2 separate regions of the Homo sapiens genome follow, and region 2 is linked to region 1. The links come from fine-mapping of genetic effects on gene expression. Tissue or cell type: whole blood. Region 1 holds a variant in brackets; the other region holds the start of a gene. All regions are shown on one strand. Distances are from middle to middle.

Evidence for each region. PIP is the estimated chance that this variant, and not a neighbour inherited with it, causes the effect.
Region 2: TMEM71 starts here. The variant in region 1 is fine-mapped to the expression of TMEM71 in whole blood (INTERVAL, PIP 0.98).

What each region holds. Positions count from the first base shown.
Region 1 is chr8:132,700,363-132,708,470 of GRCh38, reverse strand. It overlaps a transcript of DNAAF11 not described here and a transcript of TMEM71 not described here. Among named protein-coding and RNA genes, the nearest start is that of DNAAF11, 29 kb to the right of the region's middle. The variant C/T (reference allele first, on the strand shown) is at 4,913.
Region 2 is chr8:132,756,721-132,764,828 of GRCh38, reverse strand. It overlaps TMEM71 (transmembrane protein 71), which reads left to right and starts at 4,247. Exons shown (of 10, transcript NM_001382403.1): 1 at 4,247-4,353; 2 at 5,914-5,989; 3 at 7,535-7,595. The coding sequence starts at 5,950.

The DNA of each region.
Region 1 (8,108 bases):
TTACATGGTGATAGATAATGAACACAACATCCACTGATTCTCCTCCAAGTGTATAAAGTGTGTTGCTGTGCAAAATGACTTTAGGACATGTCCCCTAGCAGTGGGCTCCAGCCAGATGGTTGCTCTTGAGCCCCACTACTTGGAGTGGAGAGTATAACCTTAATATCCTGCAGATCCATCTGTGACAGAGGTGCACAGGACCTGACTAGTGATGTGTGTGCTGCCAGGAAGACTTGTACATCACTGGATGTCAGCTCTCTGCCAATGGCCAGCCTCAATCCTCTTCAGGTCCTATTTGTTATTGTAGTCTAGCAGCGGGCAATATTGTTATAAAGAACCACGTCTGCTGTACACAAAAGATTCTCAGTGATCTGGAATGCACTCCTTGGGAATTTGTAACTTTGCTGAATTTAATAGTCATCATCATAATATGATTTCATGTATATATTTGATTTTATAGTTTCATTTATTAATACATTCAGTAAATATATATTTAGTCCAACCATGTGCCAAGAGCCAGTCTAGCCCCTGGGAGTATGACGGTGAAGAATACAGACGAGGTTCCTGTACTTATTAAATGTCATGTTTATGTAGGCACCATTCATTCTGTGAAATAGGCAGAACAGCTGTTTTTAAAAACTTGTATTGTTCAAATACGAGAAAAACAGAAAATAGTGTAAAAATTATTATAAGGCAAATGCCTTGTTTTAGTCTGTTTTGTGTTGCTGTACCAGAATATCACAGACTGTGTACTTTATTTTTAAAAAGAAACATATTTCTCACAGTTCTGGCAGCTGTGAAACCCAGTATCAAGGTGCTGGCATCTGGCAAGAGCCTTCTTGCTGCATCATCTCATGGCTGAAGGTGAGAAGATGAGAGAAGGCCAAAGGGAGGAAAGGGGCCAAACTCATCTGTCTATCAGGAACCTACTCCCGAGATAACTAATCTATTCTCACAATAATAACATTAATTCATTCATGAGGGCTGAGCCCTCATGACCTAATCCCCTCTTTAAGGTCCCATGTCTCAACACTGTTGCACTGGGGATTAAGTTTCCAACATATGAAATTTTCAGGTCACATTCAAACCATAGCATGCCCTTTTAAGAACCGAAGAATAAAAAGAGACGAAATCTTGCTAGCTGTATCAGGAGCCCTCCAGCTGCCCCTTCCAACATCCTCACCTTCAGAATAACCACTATGGCTGAGTTTATGATAATCACCTCTGCATCTTGCTTTATAGTTTTTATTACCAATTACGTTTCTAAATACTATAGTATAGCTCTGCCTGGTTTTATTTGTTTGTTTAATATGCCTATTGGGTCTCTTTGAATGCATAAGTTCTTCCTCCCTGACCTTTGAAATTTGTTTCTTTGAAAACTGCATCATTTGTCTTGTAGACTTTACTCCATTGGAATTTTGCTGATCGCATGTCTGTGGTAAAGTTTAATGTCTTCCTTAGTCTTCTGTATTTCTTGCCAACTGAAAGTTGATTACAGAGGCTTAATCGTTTTTTGTTTTGAATTTTGTGGGGAACAATTACTTCCTAGGTGGTGTCATATTCTTTGTCAAGAGTGACATTATGTCATTTTGTGTTGTCAGCAGCCATTTCTGATCAGTGGTTAGATATCTAATTAATTAGAGATTGAAAAGGATGATATTCCAGTTTGATCACATCTTCTTTATTGGGAATATATCTGTGCAAGGAAACATCTACCGTCTGATTGCCCAGTGGTTCAGATTTTATAGGAAAGGAGAGATGAATGCTTGAGTCTTTTCCTGTATTTGCTAATTTTCAAAACAAAAAGTTTATTTCTTAATATCTTTTAAAGGTGGCCAGGATGCTATGTATAATCAGCATTTATATATATGAAGGAACCATGTTTAATATATAAAATTTCCCAAAAGGCACACCCTCCAACTTCCAAACTCTATATACTTTGTACCTCATCAAGATGCTAAAAAGATTGAGAAAGTAAATTAAAGTATGGGAGATATATAGATAATAACTCAACTTTAAAAATTTAACCACCATTTATTTTTTGAGAGCCTACTACCTGTAAGAACTGAGTCAGGTACAGATGTTTTAAAATATGGTGCCTGCCCTCAACAAACTTGCTCTCTAATAGGGGAAACAGGGCATTGCATGAAACAAGAAGGGTAAGACCATGGGGCCAATACTGATGGAAGATGCTAAAGGACTGTAGAGGATTTCCACTCACCCACTGTCATAGCTCAGACTGCTATAAGAAAATACTGTAGATTCAGTGTCTTACCCAACAAACATGTATTTTTTTTCAGAATTCTAAAGGCTGCAAAGTTCAAGATTGAGGTGCCAGCTGATTTGGTGTCTGGTGAGGGCTCACTTCCTGGTTTGCAGATGGCTGTCTTCTTGTTTCAGCTTCACATGTTGGAAAGAAAGATCCAGTGTCTCCTCCTCTTTTTATAAGAGAACAAACCCCATTCATGGAGGACCCATTATCATAACCAGATCATTTTCCAAAGTCCCCACCTCCAAATACCATAACATTGGGGATTAGAGCTTCAACATATGAATCTTATAGGGACAAAAACATTCAGTACATAATACTCAGTTACCAAAAATGTATGCCTAATAAATTTTAGAGATTCAATACTTCTGAATTGAACATCACTGTTTTGACTTACAGGTCTTTTAACGCCTTTTACTAGAGATATTATTTTGCTGCTCTAAAAAGTATAAATGGTTTGTAGTTGTTCTAGCTCATTCATCCATGAGTTCAATCAATCCAATCAATCATTATTATAATTGATCACCTGATAATTACCTGGCACTTCTTAGGAACCAAGGATTTTTTAAGTGAAGGAAATACAATTCTACTCTCAAGGAGCAGATGTCATAGCAGACTGGGAACCAGCTAAGCATGTAATTACAAGTGTCAAATATACTCTAGAGCCAAAAAATGCATTTCTTTGAAAACATTTACAAGGTCAGATTCTCTGGTAATTTAGATGAATTCTTCCTTTGGGTTAATGGGAATTATGGTATTGTCTTCTCTTTTTGAGAGCAGAGAGGGATGAGACATGAAGGGAGAACCAAAGTATCAGAAACAGGTAGTGAGGAGAAGAAAATAAAAGAAATGATTACAGTGGCAATAAGTTAACAGTAATAGGAAATACGATCACTGGGGAACTTTTATTCTGTGCCTGATCCTGCCCCTGACAAGTTCACGTTGCATGTTCTATTAAATCTCATAACAACCACTTTAGCTAGGCAGGTGTGATGGTTAATTTTATGTGTCAACTTGGATATATCATGATGAAAAGTTGCTTGGTCAAAAACTGGTCTAGATGTTCCTGTGAAGGTATTTTGTGGATGTGATTAATGTTTGCAATCAGTTGACATTAAATAAAGCAGATTATCCTCCATAATGTGGGTGGGCCTCATTCAACACATTGAAAGCCTTAAGAGCAAAGATGGATGTTTACTAAAGAAGGAAGTCTGCCTCCAAATTGCAATATAAACATTCTGCCTGAGTTTCCAGCCTGTAGAGTCAAGACAGTAACATTATCTCTCACCTGAATTTCCAGACTGCCATCTTGCCGTATGGATTCTGGACTTGTCAGCTCACTACGACTGTGTAAGCCAATTACTTAAAATCTCTCTCTCTCTTTCCATATATATATAGTGTATATATACTGTATTAGTTAAGGTTCTCCAGAGAAACGGAACCAATAGGATGTGTAATATAGATATACATGTATTACATATAATATACAAAAAATGTATATTTATAATTCATCACATAACCAATGGGACATATAATATATGTGATTATGTATAATATATGTGACATATGTAATATATATGTTTATAATATATCATATATCCTATTGTTTCTGTATCTCTGGACAACCCTGTCTAATATAGCAGATATGATTATTGCCATTTTATACATTTAATAACGTTAGACAGGTTGAATAACTTTCCTAAGGGTTTCCGAAGATGATAAGTAAGTGGGAGATCTAGATTTCAAAGCCAAGCCTATCTGACCCACAGCCCTTACTTCCCCTACTACTGATTGCCGCTGAGAAGGTCACATGAGAGGGGCATGGTGCCTTGGTGATCAAAGGCTGTGTGAGTCATTCTCGCCAGAAATGCTAACTCAGGAGAAAGTTTTCCATGAGGTGAAACATTAAATGAAAAGAGTCATCTTTCAAAGACAATGATGACCTTCACCTTTTTTCTTGTATCTCAGGGTTCTCAAATCTAGTTTCTTGGAGAATTGGCATGAATGAGATGCAATATAAAGAGAGGAATTATCTAACATTGTCCGGTCTGCTTTAGAGCCTCTGTTCATAGAGGCTGATGTAGCTACAGAGCTCATAAAAAGAGTTGCTGTTTTGTTTTGGCGCATCTACTATATGCCAGGTGATTTATCTTCTTTGTCTGTAATCATCGCCACCATCCTGCTGAGGACTACCCTTGGTTTGGTCAGCTTCCACAGTATGTAAACCCACATCATCTCTGATGGGATCAGCCAGCCGTCCTTCATCTTGTAACCATGCTGTATGGCCTCCAAGCTTGCCTGGCGTATTCTGTCTTAATTTTCTCTGACTGGGAAGTGTCCCTTCGTTTATAGGATTGGTCATATGACCCACTTATGCAAGGTGGTGGAGAAAGCAGGGAAGTACACGATCCGTGTACTTTGACGAGCTTTAGCAGCTCTGCCACCCACTCTCATTTAAAAGTGAGGAAGGCAAACTTCAAGGAGGATGTATTGCTCACCCTGAGTCATACACTGCAGGTCTCTAAGGCGCCTGTGCCACTCACCTCCACCCCCTCCCCAACACCCTCACTGCAATGCTCCTCCAAGCAGGTATCTACGGTAGTTACTTCAAAACAACTCAGATGCAAAATGATCTGCTTGTGC[C/T]GCAGGAGAGGCCAACCACCACCCCCAAAAGGAATCCCACTACTGCAAACACAATGCAGCAGACACAGACACCTGCCAACTTGGCATACTTTGCATCAATGCCACATTTGCCTACCAGGCTTTGATGAAGATCTGATCATGTATTTCAAAAAAAAAATCTACCCTACTGTGCAGGCTGTATCCCCTCCATCTGTCCCATGCAGGGTAAAATCTGCTACAGCTGCAAGCTACACCTGCTAGAGAGCCAGACAGGGTAACTTGGGAGTGGAGGGCAATTTAGCAGGTGGATGCTAAAAGCTGGAAACATTTTGCAAAAATTTTCTTATCCTTTTGTAGCCTTAAAGGAAACTTTTTAAAAAAGAAAATAAGATGCAAAGGGTAAAACAAAGGCTGGTGAATCAGGACTTGTACTTTCAATGCAAAATGAAATTTTGCATTTGCATTGTAGAGAGGGAAGGTAGTCCCTCCTCCAGCCCAGGCCAAATTGAAACAACATACCTTTGTGTGGGTGAAGCTCATCTTCAGGCTGCAAGGGATCTGCTGTGGGGGAGACAGCTGAAATTCACTGCCGGCAGTTCCATTTTATTCTCATTTTCTTTTCTCTTTTTCAGTAAAAGAAAAGGTCAAGAAACACATTCTAGAGCCTTCCGCCTTCCTAATCTTCCTTGTTTCCTCTCTTGCTGTGTCCTTCGAAGAGTAGCATCGCAGTATAGCATGATACTTCAGCTCTGGAGTCAGAGGAGACCTGGGACTAGACTGTGATCCAGCTACTTAACTGCTTTCACTTTGGACAAGCGATTTCACGTTTCTAAGCTTTAATTTCCCAGTCTTTAAAATGAGACTAAAATATTACCTAATTCGTCTAACTTTTATGAGATTAAACAAGTTCATGCAGGCAAAATGCTTAACACTTAAAACAGTGCTAGATCATAAGCTTTTCTGAAGTGGGAGCTGCAATTATTATTATTATCATTATTATTGTATAATAATAGTAGTGGTGACAGTAGTAGTAGTATTTATGACCTCTGGGACAACGGAAATTTTTCAGTTATTAGGTGAGATGATAGAAAGGAGAGACTAACTGTGGGCTGAGGCTTAGCTGCGGCCGTGTTAATCTAGCTGAATAAATACTTCTTCCAATATTTAACACAAGTTAGAATGGTATAAAGGCAAAAATACAGATTTTGAGGTCAGATAGACATATATGTAGACTTAGACACAGACACAGACTCTGGCAGTTCCACCATTTCTAGCTTTGTGATATTGGACCTATTAGTCAACTTCATTGACCCTCACTTTGCTCATTTATAAAACAGACCTAATTTCATGACTTGTGGCCGTCTCTGAAGTGCTTGCTGCAGTGTGGAGTGATCGTATGGCTTTATTGTCATAGAGAAGACCAAATAAGAGAAAGTAAGCTTATATAGTGGCATGAGAAAAGATTGGCTTTAAAAATAACTTCTTTAATTCAATTTTCTTTATTTTGAAAGTGACTCACCATCATTTTATTTAAATAGGAAGGAAAGAATTCAAATAAGCAAAAGAGAAGAAATTACACATCATCCCTCAACTCAAGAATAGCCAAGGCCAACATCTTGATGTTTATCCAAGAAAATTATCTTGGCTGCAAGGTTGATGAGATATGAAAGCAGGCCACCTAGAGAGGGGGACTTTGGGCCTAGGAGCTGCCACCATCTGGGGTCAATCATGTGGCCATTGCTCTGGTGGAAGCAGAGGGCTCTACCAGATGACAGGCTCAACCCCCTGCTATGATTTATTGTAAGGGAAGTGCCATCAGCTGTCACACTGCACCAGTGTCATCCCACTTCCCATCCCCAACCTGGGGGCAAGATGGCCACACAATAAGTTAGTTTTAAAGACACTTTATCCAAAGGGAAGCAGGACATAAACTAAAATCTAGTGCATTCGGTGTGTCTTCCCACCTTCCTTTTCTTCCTCCCTTATTTTTTGTTTCAACTCTCAGGCCTTTGTTAGTTCTGGGGTCCATGCAGCTCAGGAGCTCACAGTCAAGATGTAGACAACTCCAGGTAGCCCTTCCCACCTCTGCCTGAATAACAGAAAGGCAGACAGAAAAGCTTCCCAGGCATCCTCTGTACTTCACTGCACAGTGCTCAGCACACTGGTCTAAGTCCAGTGTCCATCTTTCCTCATGACTACAAGCTCCAGGAGGGAAAAGATCATTTCCTCTGTGGTCATTACTCTATTCCCAGTGCCTCTGGGGAGGCACTCAGTAACTGTTGATCAGACTGCTGCTATTGAAAGAATATATGAGCCGGGTGGTATTTGTAGTGAACATTTGTTGTCCTGTTCTGTATCCCAGTGCTATGTTTTGAATGTTTATCCCCTCCAAAACTCATGTTAAAATGTAATTGCCATTGTAACAGTGCTAAGAGGTGGGACCCTTAAAAAAGGTGATTAGGCCATGAGGGCTCCCTCTTCATAGACAAGGTTGGTGCCATTATAAAAGAGCAAGCCCCCTCTTGTTCATTCTTGCCCTTCCATCTTCCCCCATGGATACCACAGCAAGAAAGTTCTTGCAAGATACCAACCCCTCGATCTTGAACTTCTCACATTTCAGAACTGTGAGCCGATAAATTTCTGTTCATTTTAAATTATCAAGTATGTGGTATTCTGTCATGGCAGCATAAAAATGAGGAAGACACTCTATCACTTCGTTTTCTATTCTGATTCCTATAACACCCTTTTCTTTGGGCAATCACTCCTCCTCAGTCCATACATTTTGGTAAGGCTACTGATCTCAAACCCAGACCCCAAACCTTGGGGACGATGGATGTATAAGACACAAGCTTGGGCAATCAGATTCTGTTTCTATTTCTTTTTTTACAGACAGGATCTCCCTCTGTCACCTAGGCTGGAGTGCAAGTGCAGAGGCACAATCACAGTTCATTGCAGCCTAGAACCCTTGGGCTCAAGCAATCCTCCTGCCTCAGCCTCCCAAGTAGCTGGGACTACAGGTATACACCACTGCATCTGGCTAATTTTTTTTTTTTTTTGTAGAGGTGGGGGTCTTACTTTTTTCCCCAGGCTGGTCTTCAACTCCTGGCCACAAGTAATGGTACCACTTCAGCCTCCCAAAACGTTGGGATTACACATGTTATTCATTAACATGAACTGCTGCACCCAGCTCTCAATCAGACTCTTTTTCTCCCAGAGC
Region 2 (8,108 bases), 56 kb before region 1:
CACAGTGTAGCAGGAGGAACCAACATGGACAGAAACTTGGCTCATTAGTTCCAATTGTGATGCATCCTCTGAAAGGAAAGCGCAGACAGCTATGGGATCCATAACCTGGTCTGGGAGGGTCAGAGAGGCTGCTCAGAGAAAAAGCTCTTTCAGAAAGAGATGGGAGATGAAGAAAATAGCACATTCCAAGGGCCTGAGGTGGAGCAAAGCTAGAGAAGCTGAAAGGAAGCCAGCATGGTTGAATTCTAAAAAGACAGATGGGGCCTGTTGAGGGAACAATGAGGCTGAAAAATAGTCAAGTCCAGACCCTACCAGGCCTGGCAGGCCATGAAGAGGATTTTGAACTTCACAGGAGAGAGGAGCAAGGGCAAGCACTGATGAATTTAATCAGGGGAGTGACATAATCAGATATTCTATTGGAGAGGTCATTCTGACCATGGCTTGGGGAGTGTATTGGAGAGAGGCCAAGTGACTTTGGCATGTTGGCATGGAAGTCCAGGCAACAAGTGCAATACACACACACACACACACACACACACAACCTCCCAGTTCATATTTTTCATTATGTAATGTACCTTATTGATAGCTATTATTATATGGCTTATGCATACTGATTTGATGTAGCTGGAGCCCTAGAGCAGATAGTGGAGATGGAGACTTAGATGATAAGCCTAAGAGCTACATGAAGAGGAATCAAGATTTCAAGTCCGTGTTCAAAAGCTACATGGAGAGGAGTCGCAATTTCTCCCAGTTTTCTGGCATGAGTGATTGGGTGGAAGATATTGCCATCTAATGGGACACAGTGTTCCAGAGCAGGATGAGGCTTGGGTAGGAAGAGAGATCATGAGTACATGAGGGATTTAAGGAAGCATGCAGACATGTTTGTTCGTTGTTTGTAGTGTGTTAAAATTAAATTTGTCAAGTCCATCAATTTATGTCAGCATTTCCTAACATGAGTTCTTTAGCATTCCGCCTGTCAAAGAGTATCTTAGGGACTAACAGTTTTGGCTTTACGTGGGAGCTGATATGAAACACTGTCTCCAATTCCCTCACTTCTGTAAGATCCTCTGTGATTCATTTGCAACACATGAACGTTTGCAACACATAGCTCTGGAACTGGGGTCTTGGGAGATATTATGTGACCAAAAGATTCTCAAGGCAAATAATTTTGACAGATGGTGAGACCATGTTTCCTGTGTATAGTAGCAAGTCCGAGTATCATTTAAAAGATTCTATAGTGACCTCTATTAGAGACCTATGCTTTCTAGAACTTTTTGTACTGAAATTTGCCACTCGTCTTTTCCCCATCCACACGCATCACCTCCATTAACAGTGGAGGACTGAATATTCTGTGGAACATGCTTTTAGAAACATTGATTTATAACATGCAGAATAAAGGTTCTGAAGGCAAGTCTACCTGGATGTAATTAATTTATTTGTTAATTCCACAAACATTAATTGATAACCTACTATATGGGAAGCACTACTCTTGATACTTGGGCTATTAAAATGAAGCAAAATGACAATATTCTCTGCTCTTTTAATGCTCATGTTCTGGCTGAGGAGTACGTTTCTTATTACAAGGAATGAATTGTGTGACATATTCCTTGGTAAAAAGTGCTAAGGAGAAGAATAAAGCAGGAAGAGACTAGGGAGTGGTGTGGAGGGCAATTAATTAGTAGCAAGGCAGTGGAGAAAAGAGCTGAGGGAGGGGAGGAAGAAAGCCCTGTGACCCTTAGGGTGAGGGAACACTAACCTCAAAGATCTTGAAGTAGACCCGTGTCTAGTGTATGAGAAACAAGAAGAAGATGAGTGGGTCTCAAGAGAGAAGATTGAGAGGGGAACCATAGGTTTGGAATTTAGTTCTGGCCATTGGCAATTTTGAAAGATTTATGCAAACTCTATAAACCTCTGTCCTGCATGTGGATAACAATTGCACTTATTTTCTAGGGCTACGTGAGGTTGAAACAAGATTACATATGTACAGTGTTTAGTGCAGTGCCTGGTTTGTAGAAAATGCTGACACACGTTGGATATGATCATTACACTTATAGGTTAAGAAAGCAAACTCGAGAGCCATCTCATCAGGGTTTGAATCCTAGCTCTACTTACTCATCACGTACTGGCTATGTGAATTTGGGCAACTCTCTAAACTCAGTTTGCTCTTCTGTAAAATGAGAATAATAATACAGCATCTCCCATGGAATTGATGTAACAATTAATGTGTTGATATGTGGAAAGACCTTAGAACAGTGCCTGGTACATAGTAAGCACTCCTTAAAGTTAGCAATTATTATGATCATTAATAATAAGGTTCTAATATGTGCCAGATCTTTAAAAAAAAAAAAAGTAGACCAAAGTCTTTCTGATGTGAGCTCTTCGGAAAAGTGGATTTGTGGGCACAGGAAGAGCAGAGGGTCTCGAATAAGTCAGAAAGATTTTCCTCCCTCATCTAGAAGAGATAAGCCAAGGCTGGAAGAGGGAGGATGAGGGATAAGAAAAACAGGAAAAGGAGAAGAAGAGAACTGTGAATTCCAGTAAAGAGAATACCAGACAGCTGTGAAGCAGAATAGCTGTCTGTTAAATTTAGGCAGATGTGACCAGGAGTAGCCTTGAGTAAATGTGACTATATTCTACAGGAGTCACTAAAGCAGCAGAGAGTCAGCAATGACAGATGGCTCAGGAAGTGACCTGTGTTAGGACTATGCATCTGCTATGTGTTGCTGTGTAACAAATTACCTCAAAACGTGGTGGCTTGAAATACCATTTGTCACTTCCCAGTTTGCGTGGGCCAGGGAGCTGGGCAGGGCTAGCCTGGGTTGTCTGCTTCTGGGTCTTTCCCAGTTCCAATCGAGCATTAGATGGGGCTGCAGTCAGCTCAAGGCTCAACTGGAGAAGGATCCACTTCCAAGCTCACACACTTGGTTTTTGGCTGGATTCCTGGCTGTTGGATGGAGCATCAGACCCTTACTGGCTTTTGAGACCACTCTTGATTCCTTGACACATGGGCTTCTCCACCATGGCAGCTTGCTTCATCAAAGCAGGCAAGCAAGAAAGTAATAGAGTCCAACAAGATGGAAGCCTCATCATGGTAGTGGAAACTCAGCACCTTTGCCTTACTTTATTTACAAGGAGCATGTCAGCAGCCTCAGTCTACACTCAAGGGATGGAGAATAGACATGAAGTTCCAGAGACAGAGAACTTTGAAATTAGATGGGCCCTCCTCCTGACAGTTCCTGCTGCCTAGAACATGTTCTACAGAAGATCCTGCCATGTGGCAGAACCTCAGGGGGAAAGGGAACCCCAGGAAAGGATGAGATTAACTTTTCCGCCAGCCGGACCAACTGGTGCCTCAGAAGAGAACTTGATTTAAGAAAACAAATAAAGAATACACCTTGCACATCTGTGCTGAGGACTCGATTATTTCTCATTTCTTTTATTTCATTTAATTCTTCAAGCCATCATATGACATATATATTTTTATGTTTATAATTGAGAAAACTGCAACTCAGAGGGGTAAGTCACAAATCTGAGGTCACACAGCTAGGATGGTAGACAGGTTGAATTTCTGTCTTGTGACCCCAGAATCCGCACTCTTTCCACTATGCAGTGGTACCTCAATGTTGCTGGAATATATATTTGAATGTACATTTCTTTTATCACTTACAGTAGTACAGATGTGTATGAACCCATAAACACCATCAAGTCTTTGAGCTCTACTATAATGTAAATGTAAAATGCCATCTATAGAGTTTTTTGTGAAGTCCAACCTTCATTAGATAAACCTATTGCCTCTATAGAAATTTTCATAAGATCAAGCTCTTGCTATTTAATAGTATTCTGAATTTAATAGCATCAGTGCATTATCCTCAATAAATTTAAGTGATTTGGACAAAGATCACTACTCTGCACTACTTATAACTGAATGTGGCCATATGATGAGCAAGAAATGTCAGTTCGCTGAGTCTTTCTCACGTTCTCGCAGCCAAAGGTGACAAGTTAGCTCAGAAAACCACCCCTCCAGTGACCAGGGTGTAACCAGCTGGCCTGACACATGGGCTGCACATTCCCTGCTGCTGGCCCAGGAAACTCTCTGAAATCTTCAGCACACTCCTCAGTGTGAATGCCACTGATGTGAGCCCAACAGGAAGTGTGACCTCATTCTGCTTCTTTGCCTCTGGTTACGCAGGCTGTTTTCAAAAGAAAACAAGAGAAGTTGTAAGACTGACTTTCCCAAGAACTATACACTCATTTATACCAGGAAACAGACAAGAGAACAAGAGGCTGCCGAAGACAAAACTTCTCTGCAAGCACCTGTGCACAGCAATGTGCGTGGGCATCTGTGAGAAGAAGGTAGGGTGGGATTCCCTTTATTAAGAGACTTCTGCACCTGTTGACATTCAGACATTTTTCAGCCGAGGAACTGCTCAGTCCTCAATTTTTCCACTGTCAACCACAGGAAGCTTCGTATTTCAGTAATAATTTTGTCCTTTGTCAATTGGAAGAAGAGGCTGGGAACTCCCTTTGGAAGGAACACGTATGCACACATTATTTTTCAGAATAGATGTGTCGCTTTGATGGAACTGGCAGATTCTGTTTCTTGAAAAGTTTTAGATCTGTAACTGAAGGGCTTTTTTTTTTCCTACTGTTACTAATTTTCTATTGAATGTCAGTGTACTGCCTGTAGATTCTTCTAAGCACTTGTGAGATAGAGCAATAAGACCTTCTTTTGCTGCAGGATTTATAGGCTTAAAATTAAGCTTAATACTTGGGGAACACTAAAATAAGGTAATTTGGGCTGGGCATACCCGTACAATATTGATCAAAAATGAAAAGAACAAGTAACATACTAATATATTACATTACACTGGGATTATTTTATATCCCAAACAAATGAAATTTGTAAATGTGTGCTTTGATTTAGAAATCTTCCAAGGAAGGCCAGAAAGTTCTCCTGACATCTTTACAGGTCTCTATAAACCAGGTTTATATTTTCCTAATAGGGTTTATATATAATTTATTGAAATATTCAACTTGAAGCTGTAGAATTAGCCTGGTTTGATTGATTGAATTACAGCTACAAAAACAATCCATTACTAGTTCTCATGTTACAAAATGTGGCCATAAGTGGTGAATCAGAAAATAATTTACTCCTACCTTATAAAGCGATTAGGATAGTGATACTATATACAAAGTTTCATAGTCAACAGAAGTTGGTTCTATTTGATGAACAGTAAATGATCAAAGTTTGCATAATTTACATACTTTGATATGTTTTTAATTAGTAATTGAGAAATTAAATCATGTCTTCATGGGAACTAAGTTCTAAAATCTTCCCAATGGTATGCTATCTTTAGTGCAACATTACTTATGCTGTTTAGGAATGTCCAGGCTGATAAAAACTATTAAAATCACTCTCTGTGACTACCTGTCAATGGTTCAAGTTGTTGGGAAAAAGACAGACACCAATCTCCAAGCACTGTTTGAAACTTGATAATGAAGTTGACTTGTGTCAGATGATTAAAATACACGTAAGTTTGTTTTGGGGCTAAATGACTGTTAGAACCAGTCATTTTATTAAGATTTCTTAATCAAATACCTCACTTTCATTATTTTCTTTGGATTACAAATCAACCTTTTTAAGTCTAGATTTTCCAAATAAAGTGTGGTTCTTATTTACAGAAAAATGTTATTGAGATGCACTGAGTGAGGCAATGGAAAATGTTCAGTCATAGAGGCAGACACAACTTTAGAGGGGTTGTGTCTTCAGTCTGGTCTCCTACCTTCAATTCTGTATCTCTGTATTATTTCAGTAAACAAATCTGACTAGTGCAATTAGTAGATGCCATCTGTTTTGGCATAATTTTTCTATTTTTAATATATAGTCCACCTTTTTTTTAACATCTTTTGCAGAGAATCTGTGAAGTTTGAGCAAGCGGCCTTCCCAAGATGTACCGAATATCTCAACTGATGTCAACACCAGTAGCAAGTAAATGTAGAAGAACTGTGATACGCAATTATCTTTTGAACGATTAGACTCCTTTTAGCAATTTCCTTGCTTTGATTTTGCTGATACTCAGACCATTAACCATCTGTCAGTAGCTTGTGCTTCTTAAATGCCAGTGTTCACTTTGGCAATGATTTTAACTTCATTTTTTTCCTTGAAAGAAATGTGGTATTTTTCCTTCTAGTAGAAAAAAAAAAATCACCGTTTTTTTTTAGATGCCTGTGCATAAATGTGAAAGGAGATTGTTTATCAGCTACTATTAAGATGCAAAACTGTTTGTATATAAAAAATGCTGAATGATTTTGATAGCTACTTGCAGAAAATAAGAGCGCTGTTAAAACGGTAGTGGTTTCAAGTTTCTTCCTTCCTCTTGTTATTTTCTCCCAAAACCCCACTTCTAACTCTCCCTCACACACCCACAGTTTTCTCCCTACAAATCAACCAGCCCAATCTGAAAGTCTAAATTCCTTTCTTTGTCCTAGATACTAATTGTCCATAATGGAATCAAATTTCACTAGCTTGTCTGTTAGGACTATTGACACCATCTCTGCACACGATAAAATTCTGCTTTAGAGTTTAGAATATTAATCAACTCCAACTTTCTCCAAGTAAAGTCTGTTGCCACGCCTTTGGTTAAAATGGAACGAATGAATGGATGATGTTTCTATAATTAAGAATACTCACAGTCTTTATACTTTGGAAAAATGTTATATAAAACAAAACAAAACTTTATTTCTTCCCCACTAATGTCTTTTGCTCATTATTTTACAGTAGAAGTGTCTTAATATGCACTAATGAGGGAGAGTCTAGAACAATGATTGAATTCCTCAGATTACTGAGTAAGCTGCAATAACCAACACATTGGGTAATTGATTTGGGTTTTCTCCTGCTTCACACAAGACGTTTTTTCCCATCCTTACATGAGCTCAGTTTGATGCTAATGATTTATTATTGCCTCATTCTGCACTAAGAAATTTTTTTTTTTTTTTTTTTTTTGAGACAGAATCTTGCTCTGTCGCCCAGGCTGGAGTGCAGTGGAGCGATCTCAGCTCACTGCAAGCTCTGCCTCCCAGGTTCACGCCATTCTCCTGCCTCAGCCTCCCCAGTAGCTGGGACTGCAGGCGCCCACCACCACGCCCTGCTAATTTTTTGTATATTTTAGTAAAGACGGGGTGTCACCGTGTTAGCCAGGATGGTTTAGATCTCCTGACCTTGTGATCCGCCCGCCTCGGTCTCCCAAATTCTGAGATTACAGGAGTGAGACACTGCGCCCGGAACTTCTAGAGTGTTATGTGGATGAAGGAACAGAAGATAGAAGCCTCTAGTTTATGTCTTGCTTCCGGTAGATCCCTGGTGATAAGGGTACCTGCACTACTGGAGTCTTCCTGCTGAAGCTGGAACATCAGCTATTCCCATCTTCTTACATGCCTCCACTGTTTGCAATTATACATATTGATACATGTATCAACATATGTAACTGTTGATCAGGTATGATACATTCTACTTCTCTCTCATTTGTTTATGCAGGTTCTTCCAGGTTGGAAAGAGAATATGCTGGAGAGCTGTCTCCCACGTGCATTTTCCCAAGGTATACTATGGGGCTTCTTTTAAAAAAATAATCATTCTGGCCGGGCGTGGTGGCTCATGCCTGTAATCCCAGCACTTTGGGAGGCCGAGGCAGGCGGATCACGAGGTCAGGAGATGGAGACCATCCTGGCTAACACGGTGAAACCCCGTCTCCACTAAAAATACAAAAAAAAAAAAAAAATCAGCGCTGCGTGGTGGCGGGCCCCTGCAGTCCCAGCTACTTGAGAGCCTGAGGCGGGAGAATGACGTGAATCCAGGAGGCGGAGCTTGCGGTGAGCCGAGATCCCACCACTGCCCTCCAACCTGGGCGACAGAGAGAGACTTGTCTAAAAAAAAAATCATTCTTCGCTGGGCATGGTGGCTCACCCCTGTAACCCCAGTACTTTCGGAGGCCGAAGTGGGTGGATCACCTGAGGTCAGGAGTTTGAGTCCAGCCTGGGTAAAACATGGTGAAACCTTGTCTCTACTAAAAATACAAAAATTAGCCGGGCATGATGGTATGTGCCTGTAATCT